Regions from separate parts of the Homo sapiens genome. Here region 1 is linked to region 2. A link means that fine-mapping ties the variant in region 2 to the expression of a gene that starts in the linked region. Tissue or cell type: whole blood. Region 2 holds a variant in brackets; the other region holds the start of a gene. All regions are shown on one strand. Distances are from middle to middle.

Region 1 (8,101 bases), 41 kb before region 2:
GGGGAAAGAGGGCATACTGCAACATAAATAGGAGGGAAACTGCAAGTAATAAAAATTGTTTAAAATTACAAGTAATTGGTTTTAGTGATTCTTGGTCATTTTTGAGGCACAGAAGGGGAATAATGCTTATATAGCAGTGATCCATGTGGTTTAGAACTGAAGCAGAAAGAAGACATTCATGCAACCAACAATCATATGAAAAAAGCTCAACATCACTGATGATTAGAGAAATGCAAATCAAAACCACAATGAGATACGATCTAACACCAGTCAGAATGGCTATTGTTAAAAGTCAAAAATAACAGATACTGGCAAGGTTGTGGAGAAAAAGGAATGCTTATACACTGTTGGTGGGAGTGTAAATTAGTTCAGCCATTGCGGAAGACAATATGGTGATTCCTCAAAGACCTGAAGACAGAAACGCCATTCAGTCCAGCAATCCCATTACTGGATATATACCCAAGGGACTATAAATCATTCTATCATAAAGACACATGCACACATATGTTCTTTGCAGTACTATTCACAATAGCAAAGACATGGAATCAACCTAAATGCCCATCAATAATAGGCTGGATAAAGAAAATGTGGTACATATACACCATGGAATACTATGGAGCCATAAGAAAGAACAAGATCATGTCCTTTGCACGGATATGGGTGGAGCTGGAGGCCATTATCATCAAACTAACACAGGAACAGAAAACATATTTACTGCATGTTCCCATTTATAGTGGGAGCTAAATGATCAAAACACATGGACACAAAGAAGGGACCAACAGACACTGGGTCCTATTGGAGGGTAGAGGGTGGGAGGAGGGAGAGGATCAGGAAAAATAATCAATGGGTACTAGGCTAAATACCTGGGTGATGAAATAATCTGTACAACAAACCCCCACGACACAAGTTTACCTATATAACGAACCTGCACATGTACCTCTGAACTTAAAAGTTTAAAGAGTGGGCACATACCCCTGATATAGATATAGCTTAATATATAATCTCCATATATATATGACTACACTCATAGCACATATTACAAAGCACATAAAAAGTAAAGATCAAATATTTTCAGAAAAAAAGAAAGTATGCACAACAATGACAACCTTCATAACTTCATAATAACACATGATAACTTAGCATCTTTTGCTTACAGTATTATGCTGATTTTGTGTTATTACTGTAAAGTACACTGGTGGCTTATATTTGCAGACTAGAACTGTCTCAAGATGCTATGATGCTCAATTGTGTTAACCAGTTTATAATCAATTAACCTAAGCTTGATGATGGCAACTGAATTTCCAGGTATACAAATAAATTTGAGGGTGAAGCATAGTTCCTAAAAACGATGCTGATCTCTGTTTTTATCTGCGGCATTGTATGTTATTTGACAATGCGAGGGAACACCCTATCTTTTCAACCTAATTTTTCTTATAATTAAAATTACCATTTTAAGCATTGGTAATTTCTTACCAGCGAGTAAAGTTTTAATTATTCATAATAAAATTTTATGATGGGCAAAAAGAGGAACTGAAGCAGAGTCACAGTTTAAAAAATTATAATTATTTAGTAATGTATATTTAATAATAAACATAAACATACAAAATAACCTCAACTTCACCAGTATTTCTCTCTCTTTTGCCTTTTAAATTTGTTTGTTTTTATTTGTACAGATTTAGGAGGTATTTCAGGTACAGTTTTATTACACAGATAGACTGTGTGGTGTTCATTAGTATTTCTTAGTCATTTTGAAGGAGAAATATGGTTCCCTGTGATACTTCATATTTCCATATTGATTTTTTTTCCTTTTCTCGTCTCCTTCCCACAGATGCTGCAAATATTCCCAGCCTTTTCCCCTTGATGCCCAAAATAAATTCCTCAAATACCCTGAGCCCAGGAACTATTCTTAATTTCACATAAATTTTATGTAAAGGGACTGAGTCCTTCCATCCCCCTGCCACTTCCTGGATTTTGCTCTTCCATACCTAATTTCTCACCAAAAACATACCACCACCACCATCACAACAACAACACTGCTGTGGAATGACAGGAGCCTCCTCAAAGGGCACTGGAGGGGAAGGAACTGTCTGACAAACTATAAGGCAATGGTTCTAGTGTACTTTATTGGCATGGAGGAGGAAAAAGTATAGAGAAACTTATTTACTCATGTGTTGATGTGATCACAAGAATGAGGCCTGACCTGTCATAATCCCCAGTCTAATTTCTGCCTCCATTTTTGTCTAAAACAGAGAAGCCCAACTGTCTGATGGGCAGTTCCGATTGAGAGTACTCTTCCTCCATCACCTGATTCTTAACATTATCCTGGGGCTTTACCATCTACCTGTTCCTGGGACCCAACTCCTAGTGCAGACCTTTCAGCTGGGGGTCCTGGGTCTTCCACAGATTTTTGGAATTGTAACAGCAATGATAATAACAATATTGGTGATGGTGATTATAGATAACCTTCACAGGGCACTCTCTGTGCCAGGTACTATGATAAATACTTAACATTGATTGTCTCTTCTGATTTTCAAAGTTCTAAGAGAATTTTTTTAGTTATCTACTGCTATCTAAAAAATGGCCACAAAACTTAGCATATTTTTAAAATATACTTTTTTTAAACTTTTGACCTCTTTTATTTGTTAAAATAGTGACATCCATAAACATGAAATGATTTGATCATAATGCATTCATTGATTATGGCTCTTGCCATCTTGTGGCATCCAGGACCCTGGCTGAAACGTTTTATCTCACAGTTTCTGTGGGTCAGGAATCCGAGTATGACTTACCTGGGTCCTCTACTTCAGGGTCACTGAGTCAAGGTGATGCTTGGGAGCAGAGTCATCTCAAGGCTCAGTGGGATGAGGATTTGATTGCAAGCTCACGTGGTCATTGACAGGATGCAGTTCCTCATGGGCTGACGGACTAAGGGCCTCAGTTCTTCAGTGACTGTTGGCCAGAACCTGCCCTCAATTCCTTGCCTCATGGGCCTCTCCAATATGGCAGCTTCCTTCTTCAAAGGGCGTAAGCCAAGAGGACAATAGAGAGAGTCTGCTAGAAAGATGAAAACCACAATCTTGTGTAGCCTCCACGGAAGTAACTTCCGATCACCGTTACCATATTCTATTGATTAGAATGAAGTCACTAGGTCCAGCCTACACTCAGGGGAGAGGATTACTTACACAAGGACATGAATATCAGGAGGTGGGATCCTTAGGGATCATCTTAGAAATATTCCATCTCACAGTTTGGGGAAGGAGGGAATAAGAGCTGTTTTAAGATTACAAAGACAATATCAAGACTAGAAGATCAAGGTAGTTCAAGGTCGAAATTGAAGCTAAGAAAGGTAAAGGCTAAGGGTTGGAATGGAGAAGTGCCTTATATAGTTTTTGATCCATAGTGTGTACCTCTCTAATATCCGTGTCTCCCAGCCCTAACATGAAGGTAGAGCTAAGGAGATGGTGAGTGTGAGACTAAAGGTTATATGAGGGATTATTAGGGCACGCCACAAAAAACTGCTGCTCTCATTGGGAAAGTAAATGGAAAATAATGGTAATGGAGTAGTGGAGTGGAACAGCAGCAAAGAGGAACTGAAGATAAGCTATCCTGAGTAAAAGCAACCCAGGGTTCCTATGGGAAGGAGACTTTTGGCAGAGACATGCCACATTATCAAATAAAAAAGGGCAGAGCCAGGGCATAAAGCACGTCTGAAATAAGCTATCCACAATCAAAGACAGTCAAGCTAAAGAAAACAAATTCCAGCCAGGAAACAGAAGGCTGGTTCTGGAAAGATTTTTTGAGGCAATGCTACATAGAGCAGAGGTGTGGAGGAGAGGACAGGGAACATTTTTAGCAGCATCCTCTAAAACGAATTCTATTTCATATGTACTTTATGAAAGGGGGAAAGATTGCAGGAATTACAGGCCCAAAATCCCCCCAAATTCCCGAGGCTCTGTCTATTATAGTCCTTTTCTCCAGCACTCTCCTTTCCCTCCCACTCAGGCTCTTTCGATCTTGTCAACAGAGCAGGAACCACGAAGTTCACACTCTGAACTTCTGTCTTGGAATTATGCCAGTATCATAGTGTGGGGGCAATAAGTGGGGATTCATTGAGGGAGGCAAGACAAACATGTTAACAGCCTTGAAGAAATGCCTTTTTAGTACAGAAAAAGGGAGAAGGAATCAGGAAGGGATTTCTTACCAAACCTCAAAGAAGATCGTTCTTTAAAGAGTGCTAACTTCTCCAGCTTTTAGTGGGGAATTGCCCTCCATGGGGATTAAGAGACCAGCGCCTTTTAATCAAAGGAGGGCTGTACGTTCAAATAACTGGGAACAGCTGAGTGTCCCACCCAACTCTGAAGAACAAAACAGCTACACGAAGCCACTCCTGCCTGCAGTATACAATGCTATGTTTTTTGGCTAATTCTCCAAGGATATTACACTTACTTTCAATGGTTAATGAATAGCTTCTAAGTGCCTGTTTCATTTAGTTGTCCAAAGGCCAGTGGGTCCCAGAGCATATAAAGCTGCAAGCTGGCTAATGAGCTCATTCTCTTGGAGCAAGCAGGGAAGCAGAGGAGCAGCAGGGTCAGGGTGCTGGGTTCCTAAGGTGCAAGGATGCAGAACAGAACTGGCCTCATTCTCTGTGCTCTTGCCCTCCTGATGGGTTTCCTGATGGTCTGCCTGGGGGCCTTCTTCATTTCCTGGGGCTCCATATTCGACTGTCAGGGGAGCCTGATTGCGGCCTATTTGCTTCTGCCTCTGGGGTTTGTGATCCTTCTGAGTGGAATTTTCTGGAGCAACTATCGCCAGGTGACTGAAAGCAAAGGAGTGTTGAGGCACATGCTCCGACAACACCTTGCTCATGGGGCCCTGCCCGTGGCCACAGTAGACAGGTACGTGCTGACAGGCAGAGGGACCAAGAAGGGCTGAGATGGGCTGAGTTGTGTAAGATCTGAGTAATTTCTGATCCTACTATGGAGCGACTTACATGTCCCATGGGCTGTCTGTCTAGAACCAAAGCTTTATTGTCAGGGAATTACTCTGGGGTTGTTATTAGGAAGAGTGGCGCCATCTTTGGGGAAAACCATGACGCAGGGGCAACTCATCTCAGAGAAACCCTACCACCACCCCCAGTGAAAACCCACCTAAGCCAATTTAGAAACCCAGGCTCTTTTGTTATATCATGGCAGCTGTCATTAATTAGTGGCAGGTGATGGTTAGTTACTTCCCATAACCTGGCTATGAGGTTCTAAGGAAAGCAAGTCCCAGACCAAATTCTGCCACACAACAAATGAAGAAGCAGGCATAAAATGAGTCCTGGAATCTCTGTGAGCTCAGAAAAGTCCCAGTTTACTGTCCTTTTAGGTGTTGTGATCTCACCTTGCATAAAACATTCCTTCAGGGGAAGGTGATAATATTCTAGAGGCAAGATTCATTCTTTCTCGCCATCTCATACATTAGGATAGTTATCATCAAAAAACAAAACCAAACAGCTAGTGTTGGTGAGGATGTCAATAAATTGGAACGCTGTGCATTGCTGGTGGGAATGTTAAAATGGTGCAACCACTGTGGAAAACAGTGTGGAGACTCCTCTATACATTAAATATTGAATTACTGTTTGATCTGGCAATTCTACATTCTGAGTTTATACACAAAGGAACTGAAAGCAGGGATTCAAATGGATGTTTGTACACCAATGCTTGTAGCAACATTTATTCATAATAGCCCAAATGTCCATCAACAGGTGAGTAGATAAACAAAATGTGGTATATACATGCAATGGAATATTAGCCTTAAAAAGGAAGGAAATCCTGGCACATGCCACCACTTGGATGAAGTTGAAAACATTATGCTAAGTGAAACAAGTCAGTTACAAAGGGCAAATATTGTATAATTCCACTTACATGAGTACTTAGCGTAGTCAAATTCACAGACACAGAAAGTAGAACAGTGGTCCCAGGGGCTGGTGGAAGGAGAGACTGGGGACCTATTGTTTAATGAGTAGAGAGTTTTAAGGTGATGGTTGTAGAGCAATATGAGTGTATTTAGTGCCACTGAGCTATACACTTAAAAACAGTAAATTTTATGTCATATATATTTTACCACAAGAAAAAAAAGATTCAGTTAATCTTATAGTCAGTATCAGGCAACAAGAAACCTCCTAATTCTTGGCTAGCCACAGGACCATTTAGGGATAACACCCTAGGCATCATTCTCAAGATACAGGCTACAAGACTATAATTATTTTGCCCTCTTCGTGCAAGAGTAGAAAGTATCTAAAATATTTTAGCTACTCCATGTATCTTGAATATAAGTAATCTTACCCATGAGCATCCACTTTTGGCATCCTTTATGCTAATTAATAAGATAATAATTATGAAAACCAAAACTTATTTCCAATGTTATACTAACCAGCAGAGTTTCTGGGTTTGATTAAAAATTAAGAGAAATGAAGTGATTGTAGAAGATGCCTCTAGAGTGATGATTTCTTTTTGTATAAATGTTAGAGGACTACCTCTAGAGTGTGAATTTCTGATAAATGTAACTGATTGCCTTTAGGATATAGCTTAAATTGACTAACACTGCATAATATTACAGTATACTGAAATGTTTGAAAGTAAATTATGGACATCGTAACACCCCCATTTTACTGCCTCTTCTCGCTGCATGTAATAAGATGCTTATCCCACGCAGAATGGCTGGCAAGTCAGCCTGGGAAGTCACATTTCTCCAAAGCATTTGCACTCAAAATGGATACCCAGGTTGAGATATCAAAGCAAATGGGTCTCCGATGATGGAATTCAGGGGACTGGGAATATGGATGGCAGTTGAAGGAGGGTGGGGTTGGGAGAGGTAGCTGGGATTTGGGGCAGGCAGCAGTCATCCTGGAACCTTTCACATCACTCCAGGGAACATCTCACCTTTCTGTGTAAAATGCCTTTACACATGTGCCCCGTGACTCAGCCTTGGCTATTCTGAGCGAAGGCTGAGATTTATGCCTTATAGTAGACAGCTTCTTCAGCTACTGGCTTTGGGCCTGGTAACATTTGGAATGGAGTTGTGGCTACAAATGGCAGTCCCTGTTCTGTTGTGGTTACACACCATAAACACTCCCTGTAGGCACTGGAAGGATCACTCTATAAATACACAACTCAGCCAAGCTCACCGGTCTCTCTTCCTCCCCTCTCCCCTTCCCCCAAATTCATTCATGATGGAGAAGCCAGGAGGATTTAGCAATTAGAAATGCCAGGCAAGATGACCAATGAGTACATCAGCCCCCGAATGAATGGCTGCTTTAGCCTACTGGCATAGAAAGGGCTACAACTGAAATCTGTGTAAAGTTGTCAGTTGATATCATTTGAGAAATGAATATGTTTGTATATTTTCTTTGAAACTAGCTACTGAGTCTCGAAAGGGTGTTAGGATAGAGACATGGCATCTGGTATAGTTCAGGGATCAGCACAGAGTTGGTTTTCATTCATTATTTTGTTGGCTGTGATGATCAGAGAAAGTGAGTGCAATTGAGGGGATGATGCCATGCGAGAAAGGGAGCAAGGATGTGGATGGACTAAGTACTCGGTAGAGAGAAGTTCCCTATCCAAAGCCCCCACCTCCTCTAATGTTGACAAGGATCTCACACTGAATGGCCCTGTTTTCATGAGTGAATGAGCAATAGAGAAGGAATAGCTTGGCATAACCCACTGGGAAAAAAATGTGACTAGAGGCAGGCATCCTGTGGCTGATAAAAAGGTTCTTTTGGAAGAGCAGCACATTTTTAAAAAACTGGTGATGCCAGGAAGAAGTACATCTGTTTCAAAAATCCATGTTTCTTAACAGTTTAGCTTCGCACAATTTGAGCTGAGAGAGGCAGCCGTCTGCCTCTTTGGCATTAATGCCTAAATAACGCACGCATGTTTATGCTGTTTTGTCCCCTAGGCCAGACTTTTACCCTCCAGCTTATGAAGAGAGCCTTGAGGTGGAAAAGCAGAGCTGTCCTGCAGAGAGAGAGGCCTCTGGCATTCCTCCACCTCTATATACAGAGACGGGCCTGGAATTCCAGGATGGAAATGACTCCCACCCAGAGGCCCCACCATCTTAT
Region 2 (8,108 bases):
CAGGTGCACTGGGGATACAGGGAAATAATCTGACAAAGTCCCAGCCTCCTGGTGCTTCCATTCTACTGGGTGGAGACAGATAATAAAATAAAATAAATATATATATATATGATGAGGATAAATGCCATGGAGAAAGCAAAGCAGGGTAGGGAAGTAAGAAGTACCTGCATGTGAGGGCTATTTTATATTAGGTGGCCAGGGACACCCTTACTGAGAAGTAAGGAGACAAGCTATGCAGATGTCAGAAGGAAAAGCATTTCAGGCAGAGGGAACAGCCATCGTAACTAACACGAGGCAGAGCATTCTCGTCATGTTCACCAAACAGCGGTTGGAGTGGAGAAAGAAGCAGGAAAAGAGATAGGAAATGAGGTCAGAGGGAGAAGGGGGCCATTTCCAGTATGTCATTCAAGATCATGGTAAGGGTTTGGGCTCTTCTCTAAATGAGGTGGAGGGGAGGATTCTATCAGAGCTATGAGGTGGTCTAACATGTTTTAGGAACTGCCATTTACTGAGATGGAGAAGAATGAAAGAAACAGCATGCTGGAGTTTGTTTTGGAGGAGTGCACAGGAGGCTGGCGGGAAATCAGTGTTGCACATGTCAAGTTGGTGATGTCTATAAGACATTCAGGTGGAATCCAATAAGCAACAGAAATAGAAGTCTAGAAGACAGAGATCGATGTGTGGAATGGTATTAAAAACAGGTGCTGCTCATTCTACAGTTTTAAAGAATTCAAGGTCCTGCTGCTAGCACTTCACAGTTCACCTAGCTCTTTGCTATTCAATGGGTGGCTCCTGGACCAGCAGCACAGTATTGCCTGGGAGCTTGTTAGAAATGCAAAATCTCTGGCCCTCCTCATACCTGAGTCAGAATCCACATTTTAACACATTCCCAAGGTGATTGGCCGGTAATTAGTTTGAGATGCACTTGTCTAATTAATATCATCTGGGAAATTTTTTAAAAACTACAGGTCCCACCTCAAAACAATTAAAGTAGAATCTCTAGGACTGGGGCCAAAGCATGGGTACTTTCACCAAGCTGCCTGAGTGGTTCTGATGTGCAGCCTGCCTGGGTTGAGAACCTCTGAGCTGACTCTTCTCATTTCTGTATGTTCCCTCTTTCCTTCCAGGTTTCATTGCTAGTTTTCTTAGAAAGCCATCTCCAAAGAGATGCGGTTCTAAGAGAGGATGCAGGCTGGTAGCTAGAGTAATCATGTCTCCTGGTTTATTGGGGACAATCTAAACATAATTACAATTATTATCTTTCGCTCACAAAAGTACAGATCCCCAACTTTGGCTGGATCGACTTAATGATTTTTCAACCTTATGATGGTGTGAAAGAGATACACATTCAGTAGAAACCATACTGTGAGTCCCCATACACCGATTTTTTCACTTTCAGTACAGTATTCATTTCATGAGATATTCAACACTTTATTATAAAATGGGGTTGTGTTAGATGATCTTCCCCAACCATAGGTTAATGTAAGTGTTCTGAGTTTGTTCAAGGTAGGCTAAGCTAAGCTGTGATGTTCTGCAGTCTAGGTGTATTCAATGCATTTTCAACTTATGATGGGTTTATTGGGGTGTAACCCTGTTGTAAATCTAGGAGCATCTGTATTCTGGTTTAGATGACAAATCATATGTTCTTCCTATGTAAAACAAAATGGCTCTATACTTTATTTCTGGATTACAAAGTCTTATTAAGAACAGGTAGAACAAAATGACAGATGACCTTTGGTTTGACAGGTGAATAAATATGAGGGACCTGGTTCTTAGGTATTAGTTGTTAAAGCCTTCTAGGTACAGTTTATCAAAAATACATACTTAAAGCCGGATGTGGTGGTTCACACCTGTAATCTCAGCACTTTGGGAGGCCGAGGCGGGTGGATCACTTGAGGTCAGGAGTTTGAGACCAGCCTGGCCAACATGGTAAAACCCTGTCCTTACTAAAAATACAAAATCAGCCAGGGATGGTGGCGGTCACCTGTAATCCCCGCTACTCGGGGGGCTGAGGCAGGAGAATCCCTTGAATCCAAGAGGTGGAGGTTACAGTGAGCTGAGATCATGCCACTGCACTTCAACCTGGGCCACAGAGTGAGACTTCCTCTCAAAAAACAAACAAACAAACAAACAAACAAATACTTAAATTCCTCAATTTTCAGGAAGACTGGGGGAAAATCAGGCCCCTCCCAAGGACTGGGGTGAGATCGGGTGTGACTGTATTCTGCCTTGAAAGTACTAAAGCCAAGGGTTGATTAGCCACGGGCTGATTATCAGTCTGTGATTTTCCTAGCCCTTAACAAAACTTCTCCTTCCTTTTCCTTTTGGATCTTCTATTGTTCCTTAACTACTCCACCCACAGGCTGAAAGGGACAAGGGAAGAAGGTCAACGAGAAGCTAATAATAGCAGCCCTGCTAATAAATTGGATGGGAAAGAAAACGGAAACAATTGTACTGTTTCTGGTTACCTGTGATTTTAAACCCTTTTGGCTCATTCCTTTTTCCAAATGATTACCAGCTGGTTTGAGGGCTCATTGAAGGCCTACTGATTGCTGGTAAAATTAAAATAAACTTGTATTTTAAAAAACTAGGTAGTCTTCCAGCAACAAGCCTTTGGAAGCTTTCCTTCCTGATTTACCAAGGACACAGAGTGGGATCAGGGCAAGAACCTGCCCATCTCATCAGGGCCCTCCCCGGCCCATCCTCTCCTTACCACCAATTCGTAGGCACATATGGATATAATTTTTAAAAAATATTTTTGATGTAGATAAGAAATTGATATTAACTTAAATAGCATAATCACTGTTCTACAAAAGGATGCAAATGGAAAATCTACATGTGAGTATGGTCTAAATGCATATAGATTATATCACAAGTTTTCCTAATTGCATCACTAGGATTGTTATGAGTATGTCTGCAAGGCAATCAGTGTAAATGCTTAAAACATGCTCTGTTCACATGTGTTCAAAATGTCTGGAAAAGAAACTATCCATGGCCAAAGTAAAATAGCCAGATATTAATAAGCCAGTTGAAGGGAACTCTCTGTTCTCTTGCAAAATAATTTAAGTGTAGATGGCTATTGGGTTAGAGTGGGTAAAACATCAAAA[A/T]CTACCTGTTGAATTGGAACAAGATCAGCAATGGAATCTCTGCAGATTAGAGAAGGTGGAAGGGGTTCTTTTGGTAGCTGAGAAAGCAACACAAGCAGGTCTTTCCAGTCAGGCCCTGATCAGGAATAACACTAGCAGCTTCAGGAGTACATCTTACTTTTATCTCTGTTCAACAGTTAATCAAAGGCTTTTTAGAAGGCAGAAGCAGGTGGTCCTGGAAAGCAACCCTGTAAGGAGCCCTCAAAATGCTCCCACTTAAAGGCTTAGGTAGAGTTCAGCAGTAATTAAGACAGGTTGGCCTGCTGAGAGAATCTTCTTGCTTTCCCCTAGGTGGTTAGATTTCTTTTAAAATCTTACTCTATGTTATATCCTGACTCAAATGTATTATGCAATAGGGCTTAAGTTGGTGAGTCAATGATGTATGGTATTTTAACAAGGAGTTCTATTTTAATGTAAAACTTTTAGCTAGATCATGTGCTACATACTCGGGGGCCCATCGAGCCAGGTCTAGGAAAACTCTTGCTTCTGAGGAGAAGGGAGGGGAAATCAGAAATTCCAACAGCAACGTCAGTGAAGGGATTCGCCAACCCTTCAAAGTGGCAAATTCTTTCCACCAACAGGATGAGAAATGTGCAGTCATGGGGACCAAAACCAGCATGACTTATGTTTCCTTTACTCACATGACCTTCTAAGAGTAGGCTGATGGAGACTTTCAGCTTCAAAGGAAGCCTTGGGAAAAGAAAAAAAAAAAGCACTGCTTTTGTGGACTGCCTCAGGGAGAGACTCTTGTGTGTATAGGATTGTTGTGACACTTGTCTAATGGCCTGGTCTCAGTCCAGTGCGGAGGGTAAATAAAAATAAGCAAATATCACAGCCACTTGCCCTGTGCAAATAGGGAAAAGAATGTTGAGGAAAAAATAGCCCGGAGTCAGAGTGAGTCAGAGTTGGTGAGGCCAGGAATATCATTCCTCACGTACGTAGCTCTGGACTTTTAGGCCCCTGCTTTAATCTCCCTCCCCAACATGAGATGTAGAATAGTGTTTTATTTGGAAAGACAGGGTAAGCCCCAAATTCTTGCATGATTTGGTACTATCTTGGGAGAAATGTACGCACTAACCAATTATTTTGGCAGAGTGTGTCCCATCCCCTGCATGGAAAGGCTATGATCCTGAGAGGAAGAGCCAAGGGCTTCATGCTGGCCACCTGCTTTGCCCACTCATGCTCTTGGTAACCCTGAGAATAGCTCTCAGCCTCCTCCAGCCTCTCCTGTCCCATCTAGGATGATTTTACTCCAGACAGATCTTCTGGCTGTAGGGTCAGGTGTAAGGATCTGTAGCACCCATTATTGCCAAGTTCTTTGAGACTCTCCAAAGAAACAGACCATGAAAAAAACAAAACAAAACAAAACAAAACAAAAAAACCCCTAAACTACTGACAAAGAAAGAAAAGCCTGCCAGGTATCTTACTCCATCAGGGCAAATTATAGCTAGAAATTCTGAGCACCTCTAAAATGAGTAGCAGTGAGTATTTCTCTGTTTCTCTACTTTTCCACAAAGGAAGTATGGCAGGTAGAACCAATGTTTTCATCTGAAAAAATCATCTTATCAAGGACCTTGCTTCAAAACCCAGATTGAAGACACCAAGAAGACAGGAGCAGCCAGCTGTATAGCTTGAAGTACCCAACATTAAAGTGAGTCATTTCTGGTATTAATTAATGTTGGCTGGAGCTTTAATGAATGTGGGAGTGGAGAGGCTTATGGTTGTGTTATTTATGATTTTTCTGAGTTCTTAATTAGCCTTATTGTTGAAAACATGAGGAGACTTTGCCAAACAGTCTGGCTTAGCCTTGTCAATGTGCTTCCTTAACTTAAAAGGCCACCTATATCCTCTCCTCTCAGAGTGGACAATGTAGCAATCTCAGAGACAAAGCCCATCTGTATTGGCACCTCAAGGTCATGGTCCAAATGTCTGGAGATTCAAAAGTTACATAAGCGTAGTCAAGGCTCTGAGAGTTTCACCAGTTTGACTCTAACGCTAAATTTCCTTGTCTATAAAAGGTGCTTTTTCTTTACCCCAATTAACAAACCACTCAACAGTCAAGAGAGGACAGTTGTTTGGGAAATGCTGGTCTAAACGGATTACAAATAGATGCGAGAGAGCAATTTTTCTGTTTCAAACACTGTAATGAACGAATTAAACTTGCTTGGAGTTGCCCTGAGCTTGTCCTCCAGCTGAAATTATCATGTACCTTTCCAGGAGGTAAAATAGCCCCACTAAAGGCCCATGGAGCTCTCTAAATTTGCCAGGAGCTGCGAGACACACTGCTGGGAGCACAGCTGTTTCTGTACCTGTGGCTCCTGGTCATGGCCGCTGGGATCCCTCTCGTAGCTCTCTGCGTACAGTCTGAGGGTGGCCCGCACACCACTGGAGGAACTGAGCCGGAAGATGAGCCGTGATGCATCCGAGAAAATGATCCTTAGGCCCTGAGACCAAGAACATCCAGAATGGAGCAGTGAGCAAATGAATACACAAGTAATAATCATTAATACCTGCCACAGAAATCAGCATGTTTTTATACCTCAACACAATCAGAATCAAGACCATTTATATTGGCTCTGGATACAGGGCATGTAATGAATGTGATGAACCTACTTAGAGTTACCCATTTGTCTCTTTATTCTATTTCCGTTGCTTTGTGGTTAATGTGGGGAAAGAGGAGCAAAGCTGTGAACAGATACTCAAGTTCTCTTGGGCTGGTGATATGGGAATCAGAAAGAAGTGGAAGTCACAGGGATGAAATGATATTCAATAAATATTCCTAGGGCCAAAGTTTGTCCCTTGTAAATCTGTGGATTAAGTGAAAGCAGGCAATTTGTCTATTACAGTAAGACGGATTGCCCACATTAAGGTTACCCCAGCATGAGGTTAGGCTGCAGGTTCCTCTGCTGGCAAGGGAATGCTCCAGTGAAGTGCCCAGGGCTGGAGCCTCAGCTAGGCTCTGGGGGTAGCCAAGTACACTGCCATCCTCTTGGCTCTGTCTTTTCTTCTGTCAATCGAGAAAAATGACAAGTCTCAATTATTTTAGGAGGTTTATTTGCCAAAGTTAAGGATGCACACCTAGGAGACAGGTCTATGCCTTTCTCCAAAGATGATTTTGAAGGCTCCAAATTTAAAGGGGAAAGGGCAGGATATTGAGAAGTACACAATTTTCATGTAAGAGGTGGGTAGGGAAAAACAGTCATTCATGCCTTTGTCTGGCTCAGTGAATCTGCATTTTTTTTTAACATAAGATGACACAGACAAATGAGGCAGAGGAAAATTGCAGGGAATCTGCATTTTATATAAGATAACAGACAAAACTGGGCCAGGGGAACAATCAGATATGCATTTGTGTCTGGTGGGCCAGGGGTGACTGCATCTATAAACTATCAATTTATATTGCCATGGTGAAATTTTAATAGAAACACCTTTAGTGTAAAGATCTAGCAGCTCACTGGGAATTCCCTTGTGGGCAAAATATGGGGGAGGCATGTAGCTTTTCATCTTGTAGCCATCTTATTTAGGAACCAAAAGGGGGAGGCATGTTTGCGTGACCCAGTTCCCAGCTTGAATTTTCCCTGTGGCTTAATGAGTTTGGGGGTCCCAAGATTGAATTTCCTTTCACACTTCTTACCTGACTTCTTTTTTGGCCTGACCACCAGAGTGGGGTGGGGCCAGAGCTGTGGCCACATCTACTAGTGCTGCCTAGGATTAATTCCTCATTGGCTCAGCACATCTCCATTCGCTATGTATCTCTTCTCAGTAGAGGCAGGGATATTGTAAAATTATGACCATAAGATGATACTGTGACTTCTGTTGAAGGAAATGTGTTCTCCTAAGACAACTGATAAGGTAACTCTTGTAAATAAGCATATTGGCAGGGGCCAGGGGAAGGAAGAGGAGGCAACAAAATAATATATCTGGTGATTTGTTATTTTGGAAAACTTCTATGTCTCAGGAGACATTGATATCAGGCATTCTCCCAAAGCAATTTATCCTTGAAATTTCTCTGGCCTCAAGTCCTGTTTAAGAATAAGCCATTAGTAAAAATATATATACCTGCTGCATATGTGACTGCAATTATTTACCCCCACCCCCATCTGGTGATATCTGCTGGGAGACACTATGGTTCCATCTGAGTGTCTTTATGCTTTTTTCAAGTTGTGTAGGCTTTTTTGTTTCAATCCCCAAATAAATAGCTTTAGTTTCTTTTGGAGTGGTTCAATGTCTGCCACAATTTGTGTAACCAAAGGGAGCTATCTCCCCTACTGGCAACCAATCACTCTGTAATACTGGCTTTGCAGACAGGATGATATTATCCAGGATTTATTCACTGGGCAAACATTTTAGTGTGGCCCTTATGGATTAGGCACTGTGCTAAATCCTGGGTATATGAATATAAAGACACAATAGTTGTCCTCCTTAAGCCTGGAGTAATTTTTTACAACGAACAGAAACTGTCTTCTTAACCACCTTATGCTGCTGGAGAAGTGAATAGTTACAAAATTCCAAATGGAGCAAGTGAAGCAATTACTGACTGTCTACAAATCACTGTATTTCAAGTTACGTTCAAACCTACAATAAATCCCCAAAAGTCTCACAATTATATTGATATTCACAGCCTTGTTTTTACAAACTCTTTTGAAGCTGTTACCTATGTTTAAGCCTACATTCCCGTTGTCACTACACGTGGGGCGCGTGAGCACGTGACTCTGCTCAGAACTATGGCTTACCCATAAATTGGTTAAAGCAATATCTAAGGATGAGGTCCTAACCCACCTGTTGCAGATTCCAAGTCACTTGGGATTACCTCTTCTGATGAGCCCCCAGACTCAACCCTTTGAAGTACCTCCCATTAAACAATTAACATTCTCAGATTCATTTTTGGCCAGTGAGGGGAAATTTAAGAATTCAGGTCATAACAAACTATAAACATGTGTTATCTGCTCATAACTAAGCCTT

What was found. PIP is the estimated chance that this variant, and not a neighbour inherited with it, causes the effect.
Region 1: TMEM252 starts here. The variant in region 2 is the best candidate, but not a certain one, in a credible set for the expression of TMEM252 in whole blood (TOPMed, PIP 0.72).

Annotation. Positions count from the first base shown.
Region 1 is chr9:68,537,331-68,545,431 of GRCh38, reverse strand. It overlaps TMEM252 (transmembrane protein 252), which reads left to right and starts at 4,549. Exons shown (of 2, transcript NM_153237.2): 1 at 4,549-4,895; 2 at 7,939-8,101. The coding sequence starts at 4,618. It overlaps TMEM252-DT (TMEM252 divergent transcript), which reads right to left and starts at 4,407. Exons shown (of 5, transcript NR_187592.1): 1 at 4,202-4,407; 2 at 2,790-3,054. It overlaps LINC01506 (long intergenic non-protein coding RNA 1506), which reads left to right. Exons shown (of 4, transcript NR_109769.1): 4 at 1,829-1,891.
Region 2 is chr9:68,496,709-68,504,816 of GRCh38, reverse strand. PGM5 (phosphoglucomutase 5) reads right to left here. Exons shown (of 11, transcript NM_021965.4): 10 at 5,456-5,590. It overlaps LOC124902174 (a long non-coding RNA gene), which reads left to right and starts at 4,133. Exons shown (of 2, transcript XR_007061565.1): 1 at 4,133-4,797; 2 at 5,364-5,936. The variant A/T (reference allele first, on the strand shown) is at 3,108.